Linked DNA regions of Homo sapiens: regions 1 and 3 are each linked to region 2. The links come from fine-mapping of genetic effects on gene expression. A gene starts in region 2. Each other region holds a variant in brackets. All regions are shown on one strand. Distances are from middle to middle.

Region 1 (8,097 bases), 170 kb after region 2:
TGGTGCAGTAAATTCAATTCAGCAAACAGTTATTGTGCATCTGTAATACCCTGACATTTTCCTAGGTACCAGCAATGATGTCCATTTCGAGGTGAGTAAGATACAATCCCTGCCCTCAAGGCTCGCAGTCTAGGGGTAAAACAAACATTAGACAAGTTAGTTATGTAACACTGGGATAAATGCAATTGCTATGTTGATCTTTGTTACTTTATAGAGTTACAAAGAATGGGAGAGGAGCAGGAAGATTGTAATTGACCAGAGGTTGATATAATTTTTGAAAAGAAGCTCAATCCCCCAATTTTTAGATTAATTAGCTTGGTGGGATGATGCCAATCATGAGCAAAAATCTGGAATCAATTAGTGAAAATATAGTGAACACTAAGACAGGTTGCAGGTGATCACTGAGAATCATCTTGAGTTTACTAAGACAGATTATACCAAAGTGATTTAATTTCTCTCTTGGAAAAAAGTGAATTAGATTTGGAGGGAGGCTGGAGACCCGGTGTAGACATACTGGATTTCTGTGAATGTTTCACTAGGTCTTCAATGGCATGCTTGTGAATAATAAGAATTGATATGGTGCTAATACATTGAGATGGACTTGGAAATGCCCCTTAATTAGTAGATATCAGTTAGAAGGAAGGCTTTTTGGTGGGGGATTGTAAGCCCCTTAGCCTTAGTGTGACTGTGTTCATCCTTTCTTTCCTGACTTGGATGATGTATCAGTGAGAGAGCCCACAGGACACAGACAGCTGACTTAAGCAGGGAAATTTGAGGAGAGTTTATTAAAAGGACTATTTACATGTGGACATGTTTTAAAGGAACTGATAAAGAGTAGTGCAGAGTCTCAGGTCTGTTCACCACCACTGGCCTAATGGGAAAAGCTCAGTCCCTGGAATAGCTGTGAAGCCAGAGCAGTCAGCAGAAGGCTCTTGCCCTGGTCAGGGTGTAGGATCACCATTTCCTGGCATTGCTCTGGCGGACCTTATGTTTTTCCCTGCTGTGGTGTATGTGCAGGTGCCTACCTAGTTCCCCATGTTCTTCCTCCTCCCTGGACTCATCGTCTGTACAGAGACCTAAAGAAATTGTTTTCCCTTTTCTGGACATCAGCCATTTTTCTGTGTTGATTTGTTGCTTCTGAAGACCTTCATTAGATAGATCTTTCCTGATGTAATCCATCATGGCATGGGCAGTTTCATTCCCCATAGTGCTGGTGAGCATTTGGCAAGGTCTCTTTTCATATACCTGTGAACAAGGACTATGGGCCTGATGCCAAGACTTAAATGCACCTGGAAATGCTAATTAATTGGTAGATATCAGTAGATATACTCCTAGAGAAGCAGGGCTGGAAACGGAACAATTACATTTGCAGGAGAGTATTACTTGACTTCTTATATTGCCTTCTGCCATTTTCCTGGTTAATTTCTAAAGACTCTTCTTACTGCTTTGGTAAATAAATTATTCTTAGACCAATGATGCTCAGAGTGTGCAGTAATTATCCCTAACAAATGTAACAAACGAGTTTTGAATTTTGTTCTATTGTGTTGATGTTGTCATGTTTTGTTTCTTTTGCAAGCAATAGAATCTTTCTTGGCCCAATGTTCAAATAACCTTTTTCTTATTTGAGCACATATAAACACACAATCAATAAAATTTCCCAAGAAGGAACAACATAAATATTTTAAAAATATATCATAGATACTTTACATAAAATGTAATACCTATGGGACTATTTAAAACTTATTAGTTATTTGATTAGATTTTCATTTATTTATGTGGCAAATTGAAATTAAGGAAACTAAGCATTTGAATTGAGTGTAGGAATATTCCCTTTCTTCCTTTTTTTTTTTTTTTTTACCATTTATATTGTCAAGGTGAATCCAAGATAATGATTTGTTGCAGGTAGCCTGAAATCTCAATATCATTTCTGAGGTCACCCTCATGTCTAGGGGGATATGTAGAGTAGATCATATTTATTTATAGAACATTCAGTGGTTCTTTCTCACACACACACACTCTGCCTCCTCCTCCCAATTCCCCCTGCTGTGGAGTCTCTATTGCAAAGAATCCAAAGGCCCCGTTTTAATTGCTCTTTACCTCTAAATGCCTTAAGGGATCCCTAGAGGGATGAAACACAGTAAGGTTTTTGTTTTCTTTCCTAACTTTTAAACTTATGTATTTTCAAATTACTGGAAAAAAAGACTACATTTTAGCATGTTTGTAATGAAAACCTTCTTAACATAAAAAATTATCCTACTATCCTTTTAAAAGAGATTGATACCTTGTCATAATTTTTCCGTTTTATAGCTGTTTTATAGTCACTTACTGGAAAAAAATGTCTGTGAGCTCCTCAGCTGCTTGAGGTTACCTTATCATTTTTTTTTTTTCTACAACCGAGATTGTATCTTTTTAACTGCAAACTTCACAGTGGAAGCGTTTTCCTTTGTGAATACTGGGACTACATTCCTGAGCCTTTGGATATACCAATGCAGACTGCTGCCTTTCCTTCTCTAGAAAGTCAGCCAAGCATAACACCAAGAGTTGATTAGAATTTTACTGCCCCTGATTCACAGACCTTCGCTTTTCCTCTTCTCCCTAGCTTCCCTTTGCTTAGCAACAGGAATGTGGCAAGCACTGTACTGCCAACAGATTTCTCTTTTGCTCTCCTATTGAAAAGAACTTAAGGATATAAGACAGCCCATAAGACATCACACATTTTACTAAATTAGATTTTTTTTACTCTGAATATGAGAGGCTTCCTCTGGCCACAAGATTTTCACAATATTTCTAGTTGAAACTGACTTAATCATATAACAACATCTGGGTCCCTGTTATCTAGTGAAATTAGCAGAATGTCAGCAGCCAGCAAAGTGCCAATGCATCTTTCAACTACAACTCTGCCCCCTTTCCCCCAAACCCTGGCACTATTTTTATAAATTTAAGTAATCTAGGTCAGGAATTAAGGCCTTCCTTGCAGTAGTTAAAAGTAATTTAGAGATGTGCACACTATCTTCCTTACTCTGTTAATACTGAAGATGTTGTAAATTCAGTGTGTCAATTCAATACTTCTCTTCTTTGAGCAAGGTGTTGTGTTAGACACCAGGCATGTAGCAAGATGAATGAGATGCAGTCTCTGCCTTTGAGGAGTGGAACAGACATGTATATAATTTATTGATATAATCTTAAGCAGAATATATATATTAGGTTGCCAATATTTGACCTAAAAGTGTAACAACCTCATATGATACAACCTAGTAAAAAGTGTTCTCATTGTGCTAAGAGAACACTGAGACTGAAGACCTTAACTGTAACTGTTGGAATTTGAGAAGGCTTCATGGGAAGCATATCATTTTAGTAAGGCTTCATAATATGGGTGGAACTGGATTCCCCTTAAACCAACCTCCTTCTGTACTAGAGAGTAGGAAGCTTGATCAAAGAAATGAAGAGCAAAAGCTAGGAGTTATACTTAGATAATAGCAAACAATCCAGAATGGCTTGAGCAAATAATTCATAGGTGGGGCAAGGGAGGACAAATATGGCTGAGACAGTACATTGGTATCAGACTCCATTGTATTATTAGGCTATAGAGAAGCCTCAAAGGTTTTGAGGAAGGGAGCAGCAAATTCATAGCTATGCACCTACCATTCCACTGTCCTTGAGATTTGCACTTGCTGCTCCGCAAGATGGACTGACTTTCTCTGACCCAGAAAGTTAATAGACAAATTTGACATTATCTTATAACAGCCATTTTGAAACAAATATCAACATTTATAAACGAGTCCAAAGTGAGGTGGAAAAGGAACTAATAAAAAGTTGTTTTGATAGAAACTGAAGCTGAAAAGAAATGGGAGCAGAGGTTGCAAACCCACATGCCCACAGGATCCAGACAGCATAGATAGAGAGATAGCACTCCACAAACTCTGGCCCAAATCCAGCCCACCTCCTGTTTTTGTAAATGAAGTTTTA[T/C]TGGAACACAGGCCTATTTTTTTTCACATATTGTCTGTGACTACTTCCATGCTGCACTGCAATAGCAGAGTTTAGTATAGACACTGACAGTATGGCCAGGTAAGCCCAAAATGTTTACTTTCCAGCCCTTTGCAGAATGTTTCTAACCCCTGGCATTAAACAGCAACAGAAAAAAAAGAAAAAAAAAAAACAATGAGGTGATTTATCTATCATTTTTCAACTTTTCTGACAGATGTTGGTACAGGAAAATATTTCCAACAATGAAACAGTAGTAGAAAGAAACATGATGATAAATGTCAACTGGCAGAACCTTGGCCTCAGACTCAGGCATGAATAGGAGAATTGGGGACTGTGGCGAATTGGAGAGCTCTTGTTCACTGCTATTCAGCCCCTTATTGATACCCTGTGACCAAATCTTCCCAGTTTTCAGAAGAACATGTACCTTGGGAAAGGTATGTTATATCTTCCAGTTCTTAAACACTGGCAGCTAACAAAATGAAACATTTTTAAAACTTGGGGACCCAAAAGCAACATTTCTGTGGTCTGGATTTGTTTCATGACCATGCATTTGTGGATTCTGGATTTGGGACCAAGACATAATTCGAAAAGAGAAGGGAAAAGGTATGAGAAGGTAAATTGTACAAGAAGATGAATGGAGTAATAAATGTATGGTTCTCACGTGGCTGGTAAGACTGTGAAAGAGACAAGAATAGTAGTCAAGAAGATGAAAAAACCCCTGCTTCTTCCTATAGGTCAACTTTGTGTGTTAGAGCTCAATTAGTTTTTGGTGCACTGGGAAAATGATTCAAGTATACTGACAGTTTTTATTATTATGTTTATTGAGCCAATTTTCCCTCCATACTCATCATTTGTTACTCAAAAATGCAAGAGAAGAAAGGAATTAATTGTGCATCTGAAACTTAGATATCTATTTAAATCAGAAAATAAAGGAGATTAAAGAATTACATGAGCAAAACACATTTCTTGGTCCTTTTCATATGCATATGAGGAGAAGGAAATATTCAAGGAAAAAATTCAGAGTAAACATTACTTTCCATGAGATATTAAGTTTAAGTAAATATCCAGCAAAATTTACACCCTTAACAATTAAATATATAAAACAAAAATTGTTTGCCTTTTCAGCTAATTACCCTGAGGACAGGACGTTGTTTAACTTGTTTATTCCCAAATCCTCAGGGGCCAGCATAGTGCATCCCCATAGAAGGCACCTGCTAAATTTGTAGAATGAATGATACATCAATGAATGAGCAAATGGAGCCCCACCTATATCCCATATTGCTGTGTCTTTTCTTTCATTTCTGGCCTCTAAATTTGCTCTGATGGCGTTCTTTTCTCTCTCTTCTGTTTCTCTTGTCTTCCTCTCCCATTCTTTTAAAAACTAAATTGATTTTTTCCTACTTTTGGCCAAGTCATTTACTGATTTCCATTTTCTACCTGTGCATGAAGGTCACTTCAGCTTGGACTCTTTCTCAACTCTCTCATGTAATCTTCAGTTTGTGTCTGCCTGCTTACATTGCTATAACTTGAATTACTGTGTCTGTTAACAACAACAATAAAGGTAACGGCAAAGTGGTAGGGGAAATGTTAAACAACAATCGTAAAAGGGAGTAAATGAACCCTTAGGTAGAAAGTTAGAAGGACTGAATTTATCTGTGGCTGTTGAAAAACTAAACTACATACATTGTTAAGCTTTAAGGGTTGCTCTTGAAAATGTTCTCAGGCTGCCCAGGACAGTTATTGACCTATAGGGCACACTCAATACATATTAATTCTCTGCTCAATGTAGTATGACAAAGTCAGGATCAAATATTCATACATCCAGATCTTCCAGAGATAAGATGGATTGTAATATCTATGTTTCTTCTAGGTCTTGTTTCAAGTGCATATCAAAATATTGGTAATATTTGGGTTGGAAGAGAATAGTTTGCATATTATTATTAATGTTTTATTAAAAAAATCGCTCTTTTAGACCTGCAATTCAAAATGGTCTGTGCATTTGTAACCATGATATTATATTCAACTTCACATTTTCTCATCTAAGTACATTTGCAGTTGTCGAAAAGTCAGCATTAAATCAGGTTTGTACAATTATGGTATCTTATGGTTAAAATTAACAGAATCCATTTAGTTCATTCTCTTAATTTTTATGATGAGAAAACTCTGATCACAGAAATGGTCTCTATGGCAAACTTTATTGAACTGCATTTATATATTTAAAGAAGTGCTAACTGAAATAGTGCAATTTAAAGTTTCATATAAAAGTGCATGGAAAATTGTAAAATTTATTCTCTATTGCAACTACAGTATAACAAATTCTATGTCATGTAGATGGCTACATAGAAATTACAAAAAAAAACAACTAATGAACATTACAACTAAGGTAAAATGCTTTAATTACATTATATCAAATAAAATTTATTCTTCTTATAAAAAGCATCCCTCATATTCTAAAGATGTTGTAAATGTTAATTGGCCTGAGAAATTGGTGATTGAGTAATCAAGACCCCGGTCAGATTACAGACAAAATTAAGTACAACCGAAGGTGAAATTTTATCTGGCTCATGGAGATTAAAAGCAATATAAGGTTTAATGCAAATTTATCATTTATAAAATTTTTAAAAACATGATAAATTTTTTTAAGAGGCGAGGAAGACAGTTAATGCTGTATTAAAATAGCAGCCATGGTTAACTTACGTTTTAAAATCATTCTCTACAAAAAACTAGGGGCAAAAAAATTTTAGTTTAAAAAGTTGTAATATATAGTTTGAAAGAATAGCTTATAAGAAAATGTTAGTAATGGGGTCATCCCCATGGACCCAAATCACTGGACATTAAGCAACGCATATATTATAGAATTATCAACATTAGAAAATGCACTGAATATTAACTTGAAAAGTTTTTGACATACAGAACATGTGAGAACATGTGAATGCCATAGGAATTTTTAAAATATGTAGAAAATATAAATCTGGAAACTGTCATTTCTTATTTGCTGTTTATAAATGGCTGTATATGTTGTTCCTATTCTCTTGGCTATTTAAAGTAAATTAAATTTAATTGATATATTCTAATCAGACATATTTTAGGTGATATTTTGAATGCTAATAGTGTTAGACTCAGGTTTTGTAATTTTATTTGCAAAACAATTCAACTTTCCCTAGAAAGGAGACAGAACATAAATGAAAAAAATGACCATTTATTAAAATAATCGCAAGTAGCAGCATATTATAAATTGTTATGTTTAACAAAGGACACTATACAATTTTTCATTCAACAGTACTGATTGAGCATCTACTATGTGTGAGGCACTGTTCCAGTGTTTCTGCAGCCCAGTGAACATGACAAACACTACTATCATTGTGAAGTGTGCATTCTAATAGCCGGGCATATTTGTCATCTTTGTATTCCAGGTGACACATTTGTAATTATGAACTCTAAAATGTCATATTGTGCTTAAGTGCCTTTAAAAGCGTAAGTAATATGTTAGATGATGCTTCATAGCTTAGAACATATCCACATGCATTTATGTAATTCTTATCATCTAGGGTACTTTGTTTATTAGAGGAGAAAACTGAGACCCTGGAAGTCTTACTGACATCATGAGCCTACAGTTACTGAATGGAAAAGTGAGGCTTGTCCCTCTCATTGCAGGGTTGCTGTGGTTTAACTCCCCAACCTACCCTAAACAGCCTTTTGGCAAAAGACCAATTTATTCAGTATACCTTGGGAGAAGGCAGATATCTAAATTTATCTTGCTTTTGGCAAGAAAATGAATATTTGGTGGCATAAAAATGATCACAGTTTGAGAAATACTAGGAAACATTCTATGAGAAACTAATGTTTAGCAACGTATCAATTTATGACATTTGAAAGAACTAAGAGTGAATGATTGCTTGAAACCTGAATTGGACTGCTGATCATAGAACAAGTTTAACCCATGGGAAAGTGGGAAGTATGTTTCAGAATGATGGAATAACCTGTCATGCAAAAGCAAAGACCTTTCATGGAGACTGGTGAATTCCCAGTCTCAGACTTTGATGGATGATTTTGTCAGCTGTTTTCTCTCTGAATGTGTTGTGTCTCCCAGCTTACTACTGAAGCAAGGAGGTT
Region 2 (8,097 bases):
ATCTATCCACTAAACACAATTATAAAACTAGTTCTATAGGAATTAATAAAATAGCAGGCACTTGAATCCCTGTACTTAATTCACAGGGAATCAATGTAAGTTCCAGTTTCTGTAAAAACAATAAAGCAAAAAGGGATCCTTGAATTATTGTCTAATTTATCAAAGTATAATTAAAATTCTATTGTCTGACTCATCCCCCTTTATAGTCCAAAGACAGTTCCGGTTGTGCATTATTATTCATTGCAATAGGATGATTGCTTTCCTAAAACATATTAACACAAAGTAATGTATAAGTGGGTTTGTAATGTGCCTAAAATAATAGGTATTATCATTACAGATCTTCCTTGGTTTTACTTTTCTATCAGTAATGTGGAAAGCAAAATTTGAAAATATTTATAAACTAGAGAAGCTCAGATATTTTGAATTGAATAGGGTGACCAACTCTCCTGGTTTGCCCGAGACTGGAAGATTCTTAGAACTTTTAGTTTTAAAGACAGGACAATTTCAAGCAATTTTAGGATTAGTACAATCTCTGGCAAATGGGTTCAAGTTACTTACCCTGAGCCAGAATGTAATCTTGTTGAAATAAAGACAGGACTGTTTTGTGAAAAGGAACTTTTTGAAAACCTTGTTGCTGCTCTTTCAGGATTTTCCAAATTTGTCCTCTTCACCTCCCTGACCCCTAAGTCAAGCAAGTTGATGTTAAAGACACTCTTCTCTCTCTGGATACAGAATAGGACAGTAGCAACACTTATAAGTTCTGCAGAAAGTAATGAGGGGTAGGGGCCTCAGCTCTACATCACCTAGTCTGGATATGAAGCCAGTCTTTGCCATTGATTAGGTGAATGATTCTGTGACTCCATTTTCTCTAATATTAATAGAATATTAATAATATTGAACTTATAGGGTTGTATGAACAATACCTATCATGCATTAAGAAGTCAAGGAAGTTAGTTAATTTTTTGTGATCTTGATTATGATTAGCAACTTAGAACAGACCGTCATGTCTGCCAGTAATAGCTTTAAAATCTAGATTCCTAGGAGGACTTGTTACTTTTAGCAATCTTCTGCCAGAGGAAGCTTCTGTCTCCTGAAAGGCTCAGCTATATATTTGTTTGTTTATTTTTTCCCATTCAAGATATACACATGAAATGACAGAAGAAAATTTCAAAACTTAAGATTCTTCCAGGAAATACAGTGTCAGTGGAATGGATAAGTGGATAAAATTAGCACAGTTCTTTTGGGCTAATTATGTTTTTAGTGAAGGATGACAAATTCTACAGATTTATTTTTGAATAGCCAGTATTATAATAAAGCTACTTTATTGGAATAGCTCATTAAATGATTCTGAGAATCCATTAAGGAAGGCATGTCAGTTTTTATTCTCAATTATGAGGATTGGGTGCAAGACTAAAGAGCATGTTGGAGTTCAACAGGCCACAGTTTGGTCTGGCTACCAGTAGAACTTTGCTTCTATTAAAGTTATGAAAAAGGAAGACTGCTGAAAAACAGGTTGTGAGTTGTTTCTGGAATTCTAGAGTATGAAGTCAGTTCCTTCAAAATTGCATTGTTCTAACTGTTAGCATCTAATGTCAAAGCTTCATCTCAGATAGGCAGTGGGGCAGGGCTCAGATCAAGCCATTCTCCTCTACTCTATCCCTGAAGGAATCTGAGGTAGACACTTCCTAATTAGCAGAAAGTAGACTTGTGCCTGATCTTTGATCTTGTAATTTAGCCAATTAAGTTTACTACATGACACTTAGTAAAGATAATTTGTCTGTTAAGACGTAATTGCAGGACTTTGATTTTTCACATAGGGTTTATTTCCAGCATTTACTAAGTACAACGCAGAAGATGTTTAAGAAAATATTGGAAACACTCAAAAGGTTGAGATGGAAACCTGGTCGCTCAAGATCTAAACAGCTGGTCAAAAGCATCATTGAAAAACATACTTAAAATATTTATTTTTACTTTAAAAATGAAAGAGAAAAGGCTAGAATCCTGGATTTTGCATATGAAATTATAAAGCATTTAAGGGGAAGTCAATTTAAAAAAATAACACAGCCTGAGATAACTAAATATATTCTATTCCTTGAACACCTTTTAAAGTCAATTGTAAAAGTCATGTCTTTTCAGCTTTTTACTCTATTTGTGTTTGTTATAACAGATTCCTGACTCTCAATATCAGATTCATCCTGGAACAGATTTTATATCATGAGATGTAAATTTAAAATGAAAATGTAATGTGTATACATCCTATAGTTGCATTTAGATATGCCAGCTTAAATACTGATAAGTATTTACATAATTTAGTGTAAAAAAACTCACTTTTTTCCAAAATGCCTAAATATTTTTGGTTTTTTTATTTTTGGGGAAAGTGTTTTAGTTTTTATTTTCCTTTGTACATGTAGACAGACTTTCTACAAATGAGGAAGAACCTTCTCTCTTTGTGCTGCTCAAAAACATTAAGTAACCCCATTTAAACCCTAAATAAACTCTAAAACATCAATGAAAAACGTATTTAAAATATTTGTTTTCACTTTAAAAATGAACGAGATGGCTGGGCACAGTGGCTAATGCCTATAATCCCAGCATTTTTGGAGGCCAAGGCGGGCAGATCACGAGATCAAGAGATCGAGAACATCCTGGCCAACATGGTGAACCCCGTCTCTACTAAAAATACAAAAACTAGCCGGCGTGGTGGCGGGTGCCTGTAGTCCCAGCTACTCCGGAGGCTGAGGCAGGAGAATCACTTGAATCCAGGAGGCGGAGGTTGCAGGGAGCTGAGATTGCGCCACTGCACTTCAGCCTGGGTGACCAGAGCAAAACTCCGTCTCAAAAACAAACACACAAACAAACAAAAAAAAAACAAAGAGAAAATCCTGGAATTCTGAACCCAGCTTAGCAGTTGTCTAATTATGTCCTCTATACATTGTATCTGGTATATTTTTAGACATAAACTCATGGCTTCATGAACCCCAATAATAGATCTATAGGAAAAAGTCATTTTGTATTCAACATTTTCCCATGGAAATAAAGAATTCCCACAGGTTAAATAAGAATTTGGCCTTTTGCCCAGAAGAAGGAAATTTTCATGGAAGCTTTTTTAGAATACAGTGAGTTATACAAAGTCACAGTACTTCTGCTTGGTTTACTTTTAATTAAAACAACAGTAATTCAGAGCTATTATTATTTTCAATATTTGTAAGTTGCTCATTTCTTCATTGCAAAAGAAAATGTTTTGAGAATGATCCATTTTATATATCACATTTAGAAATAAATGCACTTCTGAAAGTCTGTGTTGGAAAGCAGAAAAATGAAGTGTCTTGTGTAATCTGCATTAAGAGAATTACTAGATCATAATCTACATAAAAGAATATTTAGGACTATATATTTTGTCATTTAGTCCTCTAATTAAAAACAAGGACACTTTAAATGAACAAGCTTGTTAAGATACCTTGACCTCCCTCCCTCCTTTCCTCCCTTCCTCTGTCTCTAGCTTAAATACAAAAAGTTGTGTATTCAAAAGCAACAGTGTGCAAGTTATTTTGATACTATTCTTTGCTAAGTTTAGAATTGCATTGCAATTCAATTTTATTTTCTGTCCACTTTGTTTTAGTGTTAAGGAATAACCAAATAGAGCATTGAGGATTATAATATTGAGTGCCCAAGAATAGTAATCAAAAATCTGCCAATAAAGATGCTATAAAATTGGATGAGTTCGTAATGTCTTAAGCAAATATTAGGGATTTAGGTACGTATTAGGCAGATATTTGGGGATTCTAAACATGTGTTCCCATGATGGGAGTGTAACACTTGGATAGAAAGGAAGTTACCTAATTGTGATCATTTTGGGGAATATTGAGTGGGCAGGGATGAGGGTGGGAGTGGGTAGAGGTGGGGGTGACTGCAGTATAGTGTACAATTCACTGCAGCCTGCGTGGTCTCCCTCGCTCCTTCACGATTTTCCCTCTTCTTCAAAGTTTGTGTCAGGATGTCTTCCTGGCCATTCAAGTGGAAAGATACATTCCTAACAGCTTGGTTGTGAGGAAAGTAATATTTTTAAAGGTATGATTCAGTTTCAAGATGAAATTTTTGGAGCTCGGGAATGATTTTTAACCCCCACCCTCTCCCCGCCAAATTCAGCAAATGGAAGAAGCAAGGCCCATCCGAGAACTATTCCCAGGCACCAGCTCAAGGCGGAGGGCTCATGGGGAAGCTGAGTGACCTGCTAGGGCCCAAATCCGTTTTTGGCCTTTGCCCTAAAACAGTTCCCCGATGAGAGTTTGGAAGGGGCAGAAAGGAAAGTAACTATCTGGAGCAGGCGAAGAGTAGCAACGCCTCGGGTGCTAAAATCGGAAACCCCACCCCCTACCCCACAACCCTTTCCCAAAGGTAGTAGGCTGAAAGGGGGAATTCCTCGCGGGCGCCGACTCGCTCGCATCTCCTGAGAGGCAAGTTTCTTCGCAAGCGTTAGCCACCTGTGTGAGGCGCTCTGGGTGGGAAAGGTGGCGTGGGAGAAGCGACAGCTCGGCCACACCGCTCGGGAGCTTTCCTTAGTGAGGCCGGCCGTCAAAATACCTCCAGAACTCAGAGCTTTGATGATGCAGAGTCCCCTATGCCTCGTACGTCGCTAGGATCGTAGCTCAACATTCTCCAGGCTGGTCTGCTCTGGAGTCAGCTGAGGCCTCCCGAGTTTGCCCGGGGTCCTCCCTGTCCCCTCCCTCCCACCTCCCCACCCCCGAAGTAGCGCTCCCGCCTCGCTCCACCCGCACACCCCCGGCGCGCCTCGGAGGCTTATCAGGCTCCCCGCACGCCCCGCAAGCTTCCTTGGGCGCCCGGCGCGAGGGACTCTGAGAGCCCAGCCGCTGCCTCGGAGCCCCCATTCACGTCCCCTCCTCCCGCTCCCCCGCCACCGCGCCTCCGACTCTTCTCCCCCGCGCCGCGGCGCCCACCGCGTCTCAGGTTTAATCCCGGGTTGGACCTGCTGGTTTGCTCTCCCCGCTCTGAGCCTCACAGCCAGCCCAGAGAAGTGGAATCTGCACTGAAACTCTGGGTGGCTGGAGCCGGCGGACTGGGCATGCTCAGAAGCCAGGGCTGGCTTTGGTCTCAAGTAGGAAGCTTTGGCACTCGGGAGGCAGCGGCGACTTTGGGGAAAGTTGATCGGAGAGGGGAGGAAGCCTCAAGACGCGGAGCAGCGGCAGGAAGGAGCCCCCGGCAGCCCGGAGGAGCATGGGCACCTTGCGGGATTTACAGTACGCGCTCCAGGAGAAGATCGAGGAGCTGAGGCAGCGGGATGCTCTCATCGACGAGCTGGAGCTGGAGTTGGATCAGAAGGACGAACTGATCCAGAAGCTGCAGAACGAGCTGGACAAGTACCGCTCGGTGATCCGACCAGCCACCCAGCAGGCGCAGAAGCAGAGCGCGAGCACCTTGCAGGGCGAGCCGCGCACCAAGCGGCAGGCGATCTCCGCCGAGCCCACCGCCTTCGACATCCAGGATCTCAGCCATGTGACCCTGCCCTTCTACCCCAAGAGCCCACAGTAAGCAGGGGTGACGCGCCGGGTCCATGTGGCGCCCTGGCGATGGGGAGCTGCGGGTCTCTGTATTGTCTGTCGGCCCCCGCCCCTCCCGCTTGCCATGTCTGTCCTCATCCTCAGAAATGTTTCATTTTAACGGGCACTTCTTGCGGGGCTGTGCACGTTTCTCAGAGCCAGACTCACTGCACATACGTTGCCTTCGTGTCTTTGTCAGATGTCAAGGTATTATTTTTAAATATACATATACATTCGTATAAGCCACCTAGTGTACGTAGAGTTTGAACACGTCCCAGGTGTGTGTCCGACCGTGTGTGTGAGTGTGAGAGAAGAAATAAAAAGCCCCCGTCTCCCAAAAGCCCTGGCAAACCAGCCCAGCTGGAAAATCCTAAATGCAGGCTCATCAGACTTGAAATGAAATGCGTCTGATCACCCATACTTTCTATGCTTTTGTGGCTCTCCCGGATTTCTCTACCTGCTGGCGCTTCACGCTGGTACCCTTCAAACCTGACGTTCTTGTCATCATCAAAGTGTGAAACATAAGCAAATAGGCATAGAAAAAGGAAGAATTTTTGATTTCCTGAATTGGATGACATTTACAATCCATAAATGGAAGACTAGTCTGTTGATTTTGAAGAAATATTTTTTCATAACATATGAGGGAGAAGATTGCTTATTTTACTTAAGAAACGTGCATAATGTTACTAATGGAGCATCTCCATCTCCCAAGAGGTGGTTGCTTGTTTCCAGGGTCAGATACAGATAAGCACACTTATCTTATTTAAAACGTGGACCCATTGTTTGCCTTACTCTTGGCTTCTAATGCAACCACTCTGGCATTGTTCTAGCCTTTTAGGGAACTGTGCAATTCTGATGTTAGTGGGCTTCATAACTTGGATGGGAAAAATTTAATGAAACTTGTTATACAACACTCAACTCAGAGTTCATATGGAGAGTAAAGCGACAGGAACATGAGGTTAACAGAATGTGGGAGAGCACCCAAAAGAACGGCATTTTAAATTAATAGATAATAACGTAATTGATAAAACCAAGGATATTGCTGCTTACTCTACTACTAACGAAATCACATTGGCTGGATGGCACGTGTTACGTAATAATGCAAGGTCCATCGAAACCCTTCACTTCATAAATACAACAAGTTAATATAAGGAGAAAGTAAATATTTGATTATCTCTATTTGTATTTATTGGATGTTTTTTGGGGAGAATCACAGCATGTACCAATTACTACTTTTGAAAACTTAGAGTTATACCTATACATGTTGATTCCCATGGAACATTTGCTGTTCATGCAGGCTTAGTTTAGGGAGGAGTTTGTATTCTGCGAGGGAGTTGGAAAGAGACAATAAGGATAAACATTTCTGAGATTCTGACCTTACCAAATTGCCCTAATAGTTCAGCAGACTTAGATCTGCCTTAGAAACCTGAGTGATCTGAATAAACTTCAACTTTCTCTGGTAAATTAATTTGCAATCCTGACATGCCTGACTGTTTTAGCTAACGAGGTACATGACCATCTCTCCTGGGCCAAGTTTTGCATAATGAAAAAATAACTCAAAGACAGCTCTCTGCATCTTTAAACATTTCATAGGATCTCATTTTTGTATCCGCAGGACTTTTGAGTGACACAGAGCAAACTCTGCTTTTACAAAAAGACCACTTTAATAGGTTTCATAGTGAAGCATGTTGAAGCCAGCTGATAACTCCAGTTACACATTCCATCAGAGATTTACAAGATTCTAGGCAGTAGGGAATGAGCTATACAATGTGATAAGTTTAAAAGCCTCTTTGTACATGACTTGTAGAATATCTAGATTGAAAAACAAACAAACGAAAAAGGTCCAGAGTGGAAAATAAAGCTGGTGTGGCAAATAATTTACAGCATCCCATTATAATAACATTTTATCTATCATTATAATAACATTTTATCTATCAAACAACACTGTGTGTCCTGATACTGATTTCTTACTAATAACTTGTATTTTAAAGGACTCAGCTCTTAAGGTATTGCCATGATGCTTTGGGTGACTCTGAAGTATTTTATTGAGGAAAATGATAGAATGCCTTCCAAGCTTAAATAATTTTGGAAAAACATCTGTTCTTTTTTCACACTTACATAAAGAAAACTAGAAAAAAATTGGCTTGAGTAGTAGAAAGTGTACCTTTCTTAGGGAAAAAAGAAGTACATTGTATGCAAAATGAATAAATCTTATGTTGTTTGAATGGTTGTACAAGGTAGCTCCACAAAGAGTTAAGAAAACCTGCCAAACCAAAGAAGACTTGTTTGCCTTTCAATGTATTTCACTATGAATAATTTGATTACACGGACTTACTGGCAACAAGTGTTTGTGTCTTTGTATTTCATCTTTACTACATCTTAAATGTAGCCATCTTTCTTAAACATACATATAGATTATTGTGAGTTTCCAGTTAAAATGAAACTATCTAAATAGACACATTAATTTCCAGTTTACGTTCATGCTAGTTTTTGATTCTCTTTTTTTTAGATGTAGGTAACTGCCCCGCTAATGTTCTGTTCA
Region 3 (8,097 bases), 79 kb after region 2:
GAAAGTAGAGAGTGGGCACACTTCAGGCCTCTGGAGATAGTTCTTGAAATTGAGATGAGACCTAATTCTCTCCTAATATGTAAGAGTTGCCTGAGAGTAAGTGATTTAAATTCCAAATAAATGTAAGCTTTATGAGACAGTGGTTCCCAAGAGTTTCAATTATAAAACTCCCTTATTAACATGATAATCAATTTTGCTTTCAGTATTCATTAATTGATGAAATCCACAACAGAAAACCTCCACAAATTTAGTAACATTTTAAAGTAAATTTATATCATTTATTCTTTATGTCTGTTATATTGTCTATAAATCATACCCCTTTTTATAGTCCTTCACTGGTGTTTGGAATAAAACTCTTTATTGTAGTCTTCAAGGTCCTATGAAACCCATCCCCTGCCTACCTCAGTGATCTTATTCTCCCATCCCATTCCTTCTTTCTCACTGTATGCTTCAACCATACAGGTCTCCTTTCTGATCCTTGAATATATCAAGGTCATTCCAAACTCTACACCTTTGTCCTTGTTTTTACTTCTACTTAGAATGCTTTTCCTCGTCATCACTGCAATAGAGAAGACAATGGTTGGATCTCATTGTCATATAATCTTTATTTCAGAGAGGCCTTCCTGACCACTTAATCTGAACTAGCCTTCCCTACACCTTGAAATAACCCTACTGTTATTTACATATTGCTAGCCTACTGTATGGTAACCATAATGTAGAATATCCTTTTATTAGCTTAAGAAAAACTAATGGGGGCCTATTTATTAACAGTGAATAGTGCTGGCTCCCTTATTTGAGAAGTAGGTATATGTTTTCCTATACTCTAAAATTGCCCATTTTTACCTAAGATTGTGTAGAAAGATAATTTCTGTCAAGTATTTTTTCTTTACATTCAGAAATTTTCTCTGTAATAAGTAAATGGGGAAATGGATTTTCCAATTTATTTTTCTAAAATTGAACATTTGAAAGAACTATTGCTAATCCTGGCATTAAATTATCTGGGGATATTATACCACCTCATGAAATTTTTAAGGAAAGAAAGGATTATCATGTTGGTTTCAGAATTTATAAATTAAGTTACACTAAATTCTTAGGGTGTTAGAAAAATACTCTATATCCAGTATTGTGCTGGAGCCAACTTGCACTGGCTCATGTAAGATCTGCTTGTTAATTTCCAGGAACTTTGCAAACAGGTTGATTTTGCATGAAAGCTTGAAATTGGCCATGGTGGGAGTATTTACACCATGGAAATTGGCAAACGCTACACACCATGGCTTCCTCCGCTTTTCTCCACCCAAGCCAGACAGCCAGAATACCAGCATATCATTATATATAGCTAATATTTCAGAGGCTGACAATTCAATGATGACAAAGGAATAGGGATAGCTCAAATGAGTCAAGTCGCTTTTATGGGTGTTTAGATTTAAAAAGCCACACATTTTGGGCATGAAAGAAAAAGATTTTTAAAAATAAATAATTTGTACACAAAGGCAGATAGTAAAGATTAAAAAAAATCATGATCTTTGTGGTTGCTTCTTATACCTCCCAAGTCAGGCTGCTGAATTATTTCAAAATATTGTTAAAATATATACTCTGGGTTGAGCAGATGGCTACCTTCTGGTACTTGTGATATCGGCTTTCCCCAACTCCCATACTAATAACACAACTCAACTCACTGATTTTATATGCATTATATCTTAGTTACAGTGAGTGTCTTAGACCATTTCTTTGGGGAAAGAAAGGGATTCAAAGAAGAATTAGATGGAGGCCCTGATTAATTATAGTCTATAATGTTGGAGAAAGTAAAGACTAATGAGAGTTGACCTAAGGTTTTCAGTCCTCAATAGGAAAGGACTTAAAGGAAAATTACATGAAAAGGCAGGGCTTTGAGTATTATTCTCTGACAAGACCATCTTTGGGGTTGTACTACACAGAGGCACAAGGTATCTATCTTGCTGCGAGAGCAGAGACAAATTGTGACAATTCAGAAATAATGCTATTTGGCAATATCTGTATGAAGGTATAAATAGTAAGATGTGGTCCTATATTGATTAGTTTCTTTTGAAGTGACACAACAGCCTATATGGAAGCCTCCAGTTTGTTTCTTCAGAGACCTGAAATTAAATGTCCTCCATCCAAAATAAAATTTGAGAAACAAAAACATCCTGAAATCCCGTCCTTCCCATCCCACACTCTACATTCAGTGATAAACAGTTGGAAAGTTTGGATAATTCTAAGGAATTGTGTTAGGGCTCATTGTTTAATCTTTTGCAATATCTTCATCAAACAGATTAATAATCTTATTTATGAGAGGGGAGAAAGCGACTTCAATCATGTTTGGATGGCGCTAATTATAATTATGTTCTTGGAAGAGGGCTTCATTTTTAATCTTGCTGAATTTCTAGGACTTAAATCTTTATAGGGTACTATTAATACTTCCTAAAGGATAATGTGTCATCTGTATGTAGCTGAACAAGTTGTGGTTCTTGATTAGTTTTTATTGTACAAGAAACTATGAACCCATCAAATGGCCTCACTCTCTGACAAAAAAAAAAAAAAAAGAAAAGAAATTTTTAGGAAAGAGAAAACGTAATGCAATTTGACCAAGATTAATTTTCTGAATGCCAAATAAGCCTAGATTCTTGGAAAATTAATCCCAGAATAGTAGATCTCAGGAGTCAATATGAAGGTGCCACTGCTATTCTTGAGACCAGGAGTGGTGAAGGTAATTATAAGGAGGGGTGAAGATAATACTGCAATTAATACTGCTACAACCTTTATCCCCTACCATTTACTGAAAGTAACATTTTATTCCTCGGTCTTCACATATAAACCTATTCAGCTGATATTTTTAAAATATCATTTTGTAGATGATAACATGGAAATTCAGAAAAGTAAGACAACCCACTCAAAATTTTTGAGGTGTCAGGGCTAGGATTGAAACCCAAATATATGTCTCTTCAAAACCTATGTTTTTGTTTTTGTTTTTTTTTTTTAACATTTTAGTAGGCACATACATTCTTACTCTAAAATCAATTTTGTATCCTGCATTTTCACTTAAAAATAATAGAAGAATTTCCTCCATGCCATTAACACTCCTCATAAACAAAATTTTAATGGCAGCATAACGTTCCACTCTAGGATTATTCTTCATAGTAATGAAATTTCAATTGTTTTTATTTTTATGTGTATCTTTGCACTACTTAAAACTGAATTATTACAAAACATAATGGTGAAGGCTAGGCTGGTTAGACTGAGGTCTGGATGAAAAGCCTCCCAGAAATGGGGAGGGAAGACTAACGCTTTAGTCAGTGTTCACTACCGCAGGTCACTCCCCTGGAAGCCACTTGCTAAGGAAATGAGGACTAAGGTCAGCTTGTATTTAATTTTTTAAAAATTAAGACTTTTAATATGACATTCCAAATGTGCTGCCTCCTCTCTGGATTGCTAAGTTCTTTGCTTTCATCTTATGTGGCTTCTGACTTCTCTGATAGTGCTCTGATTGTCCTCCTCCTGATAAAATATTTCTTAATATTTCTTCCACTTTGATTTTGCATTCTTAGAAAGTCATTTGGAACTTCTTATCCCAGCAAATAAATATCCCAATGTTTTAAGTTCTGCTAAAACTTTCTCGTTAACCACTGAATTCCAATTACAAAATTTATGAATATGTTTCCTACTGACTACCTGTATTGAATCCCATACCTAAAACATGTTGCACTTCAAACATCTTGTTCAATAGAGTTGTATCTGCCTGGTTACCTCAGTCTAAGCTGCTTGAAGAAAGAAATATTCTCTAAAAAGCATGGGACATGTGTAAAGAACTGTTGCATTTCTACCAGTTGTTTCAAATAGCTAAGTAGGAATCCAATTCTTTTTTAATCCAAAATATTACTTGAGCAGTATTATCTCCCACCATTTACTGAAGGTAACATTATATTCACCAGTCTTCACACATAAAGCTGTTAGGTTGGTATTTTTTTAAATACTATTTATAGATGACTGGCATCTTAGTAGACACTGGGCATAAAATAAAGAACAAATTTAAAATGATCCCTGCTTATGTGGAGCATTAAGTCTAGCAGAAGAGGCACATAAAAAATAAGTAAACATTTTTTTCTATAATTGTGTATAGTACAATACATCCCTGATATTCTTTTATAAATATAAACAGTAGTAATAGTATTTGTTCTGGAATGTTGAAATTTTATTCATGTTTATTCTTAAACTAAATTACAAACTTTAAAGTATGTATCCATTGGTTTTCTAGCAATCTTTGTGATTAAGAAAAAGTCTAAAGCAAAATGGACTTGTATGATTTTGTTGGTTGGTTGGTTGGTAGGTCACTTATTCATTAAATGATAGAATACTTAAAAAAAATTCTTAGTGCCTTTTTTTTTTTTTTTTT[G/T]TTTTGCTGCCATGGACATACTTTGTTCTCCAGTCTTCCAGAAAATTATTGGATTCCTAACAAGAAAATACATTTGTGGTGTGCCAGAGCACTCTATGGCGCTGCTAAACCTCACAAACTATGAAAGAGCTTGTCAGATGTGCCAGTAAATCTTCCCTCTCTTGCCATAGGTCCAAGGATCTTATAAAGGAAGCTATCCTTGACAATGACTTTATGAAGAACTTGGAGCTGTCGCAGATCCAGGAGATTGTGGATTGTATGTACCCGGTGGAGTATGGCAAGGACAGTTGCATCATCAAAGAAGGAGACGTGGGGTCACTGGTGTATGTCATGGAAGGTACGGTTTGTAACTCCAATCCTCTGACATTCAAATATTCTTTTTTCATCTTATCAGCTGCACACAGATGGCAATGCATTACATGGAAAATTCCATTTTTCCTTCTTTTATTGAGAAATTAGTTTGAGAAGAGTTGAAACACTACTTAGATAAAGTGGTTAACTAATTATGGGAAGTGTTTGTATTTAGAGTATTAATATGAGAATCCAGTATTTTTTCAGACATGGAAAAGTTAAAAATGTGAAAAAAGAAATATAGTTTATTACACTGAATATTCTTCATGCAGTCAGGTCACTGAGCAAACATACAAAGCTTCAGCAGAAGCTCAAGATCACTGGAAGTATTTTTGGCCGATAATTTAAGCATCTTCAACTCTCCCCTTAACTTTTAATATGTGACTAGTTTTCCTGCTATGAAGCTTCTGTAAAAAGAAAATGTTTTTCATGTGTATGACAGAGGCAGACAATAAAGGTTGAATGGAATATTACCTGCCTAATTAATAGGAATGATAGCTTGTTTCATACATCCTGTAAAGACTAATATAGAAAGTGTTTTGAAAAAAACTGAGGCACGCACTGTGTAATATGTTTTATGCCTAGCTAATTTTTCATAATACTTCTTTCTGACCTGAAATCTATACTGACATGCTTTTCTTTTGTGGGAAGAAAGTAGCTTGAGATAATGACTGAATCAGCTTGGAAGAAAGTGAGTGCAGAAATACCTATAATGTAAGATGGTGACACATGAAAACCAGTTTCTTAGGTGGTGATTAATGTTTTATCCAAAACATTTGTGTGATAGTGTCCTATAATTATCAAACTTACAGGTCATTCAGAGAAGTGGTGTATTTGGGCAAGTCACTTAATTTCTCTGTTTCACCTAACCAATTTGTAAAAAAAGAAGATATTCTTTCTTTCTGCCAGTGGTTTTCAACTGATGATGATTCTGTCTCCCAGGGGACATTTGGTGATATCTGGAGACATTTTTGGTTGTCACAAAGGGGGTGATGTTGGGGGGACTGCTGACTTCTAGTGGGTAAAGGCCAGGCATACTGCTCAAAAGGGTAGCTGCCCAGAACAAAGATTTATCTGGCCCAAAATGTCATTAGAGCCAACGTATGAAAAATCCTGCATTCTGCCTTCTTTACACGATTGGTATAAAATGAGATAATTTGTATAATGTTTAATGTAAAGTATAGAACACCACAACATAATAATAAGTATTATTTCTATTAAAATCTTGACAGTATATAAGAAATATTCTTTCTTCATTCAGCATGCACCTTTTATTTATTCTTTGTCATCTTTTTGGATATATGTTAGGCATTCAGTTTTTAAGTAGTAATTTCTATCATTTTTTTCCCTTATAGTTTTCACCTTCTATGTCAACAATATAAAATTCTTCCCAGGCCAAAAAATATAAATATTCATTTAGACTTTCTTCTGGTGACAAAACACAATAAACAAAAATACACATAATGTACACTTGGCAGAGAATTGCAAAGAAAAGAGATGAAATTATAGGACAAGGCTATATGTGGATAGTGAGCAGAAAGGATGGAAAAGTGGCAAAAATATATAGAGGTCAAGTATAGAATATAAAGATAGAGGCAATATCTTAAGAACTACTAACAATTAGAAACCACGTTTAAAGCACTTCTGAGATTATATCAATAGCTTCATATGATATTATTTTTCAGATATTATATTGGTCAGCACCTTTTAATAAAACAGCTATTGTATAAAGGAAAGTATACTTTTACTTCATCTGTTTTCCAGTGCTAATTATTGCTGTTTCATTCAAGAAACCACAATTTTGAACACCTGTGGATTCAATGTTCCTTCATCTTAAATATTTCTTACAAAAGTAGATTTCCAAACAACCATGGACATTATTTCTAAAATTTATTCATGTTGTCCCTTCTTACTAAGCCTAACTGAAAGTCTTCTAGCTATATTGGAAGAAGCTTGGGAATAATAGTTAATATTTGTTAATGTTTAGAAAATGCCCAACACATAGAACATGCTTTTTCTAAATATTGTTTACATATAAAATTTATTTAAACCTCAAACAATACTGTGAGGTAAAGGCTAATATTTATTATTCCATTTTGTAGATGAGGAGACTGAAGCTTAATGTGGTTAAGTAATTTGCCCAGGTCTCCCAACTAGTTTATAGTAGAGTCAGGGTTTATACCCAGGCTATTTGGATTCAGAGCTCAAACTGTTAACTATGGGGCTATGTATTAGTCAGGACTCTCCAGAAAAGCAGGACAAATAGGATGTGTGTGTCTATATACAGTGAGAAGGAGATTTATTTTAAGGAATTTGTTTATGTGATTGTGGAGGCTGGCAAGTCCAAAATCTACAGGGTAAGGCCCATTGATCAGAGATGCTGCAATTCGAGTCTGAAAGCCGTCTGCTGACAGAATTTCCTCTTTCTAGGGGAAAGATGGGACTTTTTTCTATTTGACTGACTGGATGAGGCTCGCCCACATTATTGGAGGGTAATCAGCTTTACTCAATGTCTATTCGTTTAGGTGTTACTAAAATATCTTCACCAAAACGTCTACAGTAGAATAATTTTTGAGCAGCTTTCTGGTATTGTGACCTATCCAAGTTGACATGTAAAATTAAACATCACAAGTCAATCGACCCCTTGTCACCTTGGCACCCATACATATCTTCTTAAACCATATTTAATTTTCAAATAAAGACAAGAACAAGGTCATACTTCCACCTAACATGATTCAACAACCCTGTGTACAGCTGCAAATTTACTAACCCTTTCCCCAAAAGAAGACACAAAGTTCTTGGGTGATGTTTACTCACCTCATTGATATCCCGTAGCTTAAATACTATGATGTGAAGTTAACAATACTTAAATACTATGATATAAAGTCAATACATCTTATGCTGCATGATAAGGAGATAAGAGAAGGAAGCAAACGAAGTTATTTGATGCAAGCACACACACACACACAAACACACACACCCGAATGTAACAAAATAAGAAAGAAATACTCATGATAGGTGATATTTCTTCCCCAGGTAAGTATACTAATATTTTCCCCATTGCTTCACGATAATTTTAATAAATTTTCTTTATCTTCCTTTTATTGCTAGATTGACTAAACAGCACGTTATCTTAATTATCCTTTTAAAAACAGGGTTCTAAATAATATATCAATATTCAGAGTCACAGCTTTTGCAATGATGTTGACTGCCTTCAGAGTCACAGCTTTTGCAATGTTGTTGATTGCCTTCAATTAAACTCAATAAAATGACTACAATTTTATAACCTGATGCCAATCTTTCCCTAAATGGTAATTCTAGCCAGCTCAGTGTAACTT

Alleles and levels. Alleles are on the strand shown, and positions count from the first base shown. SD is a standard deviation of normalised expression in the study named. Not every link is listed here.
For the expression in prefrontal cortex of the gene that starts at base 5,129 in region 2, G is the high allele of the variant in region 3 and T is the other (moderate effect, 0.60 SD a copy in ROSMAP).

Evidence for each region.
Region 1: its variant is fine-mapped to the expression of PRKG1 in blood mononuclear cells (TOPMed, PIP 0.99).
Region 3: its variant is fine-mapped to the expression of PRKG1 in prefrontal cortex (ROSMAP, PIP 0.95).

The regions. Positions count from the first base shown.
Region 1 is chr10:51,242,470-51,250,566 of GRCh38, forward strand. The region is part of intron 2 of PRKG1 (protein kinase cGMP-dependent 1); the gene reads left to right. Among named protein-coding and RNA genes, the nearest start is that of MIR605, 53 kb to the right of the region's middle. The variant T/C (reference allele first, on the strand shown) is at 3,967.
Region 2 is chr10:51,069,359-51,077,455 of GRCh38, forward strand. It overlaps PRKG1 (protein kinase cGMP-dependent 1), which reads left to right and starts at 5,129. Exons shown (of 18, transcript NM_006258.4): 1 at 5,129-5,543. The coding sequence starts at 5,233.
Region 3 is chr10:51,148,586-51,156,682 of GRCh38, forward strand. It overlaps PRKG1 (protein kinase cGMP-dependent 1), which reads left to right. Exons shown (of 18, transcript NM_006258.4): 2 at 4,579-4,745. Among named protein-coding and RNA genes, the nearest start is that of PRKG1, 78 kb to the left of the region's middle. The variant G/T (reference allele first, on the strand shown) is at 4,409.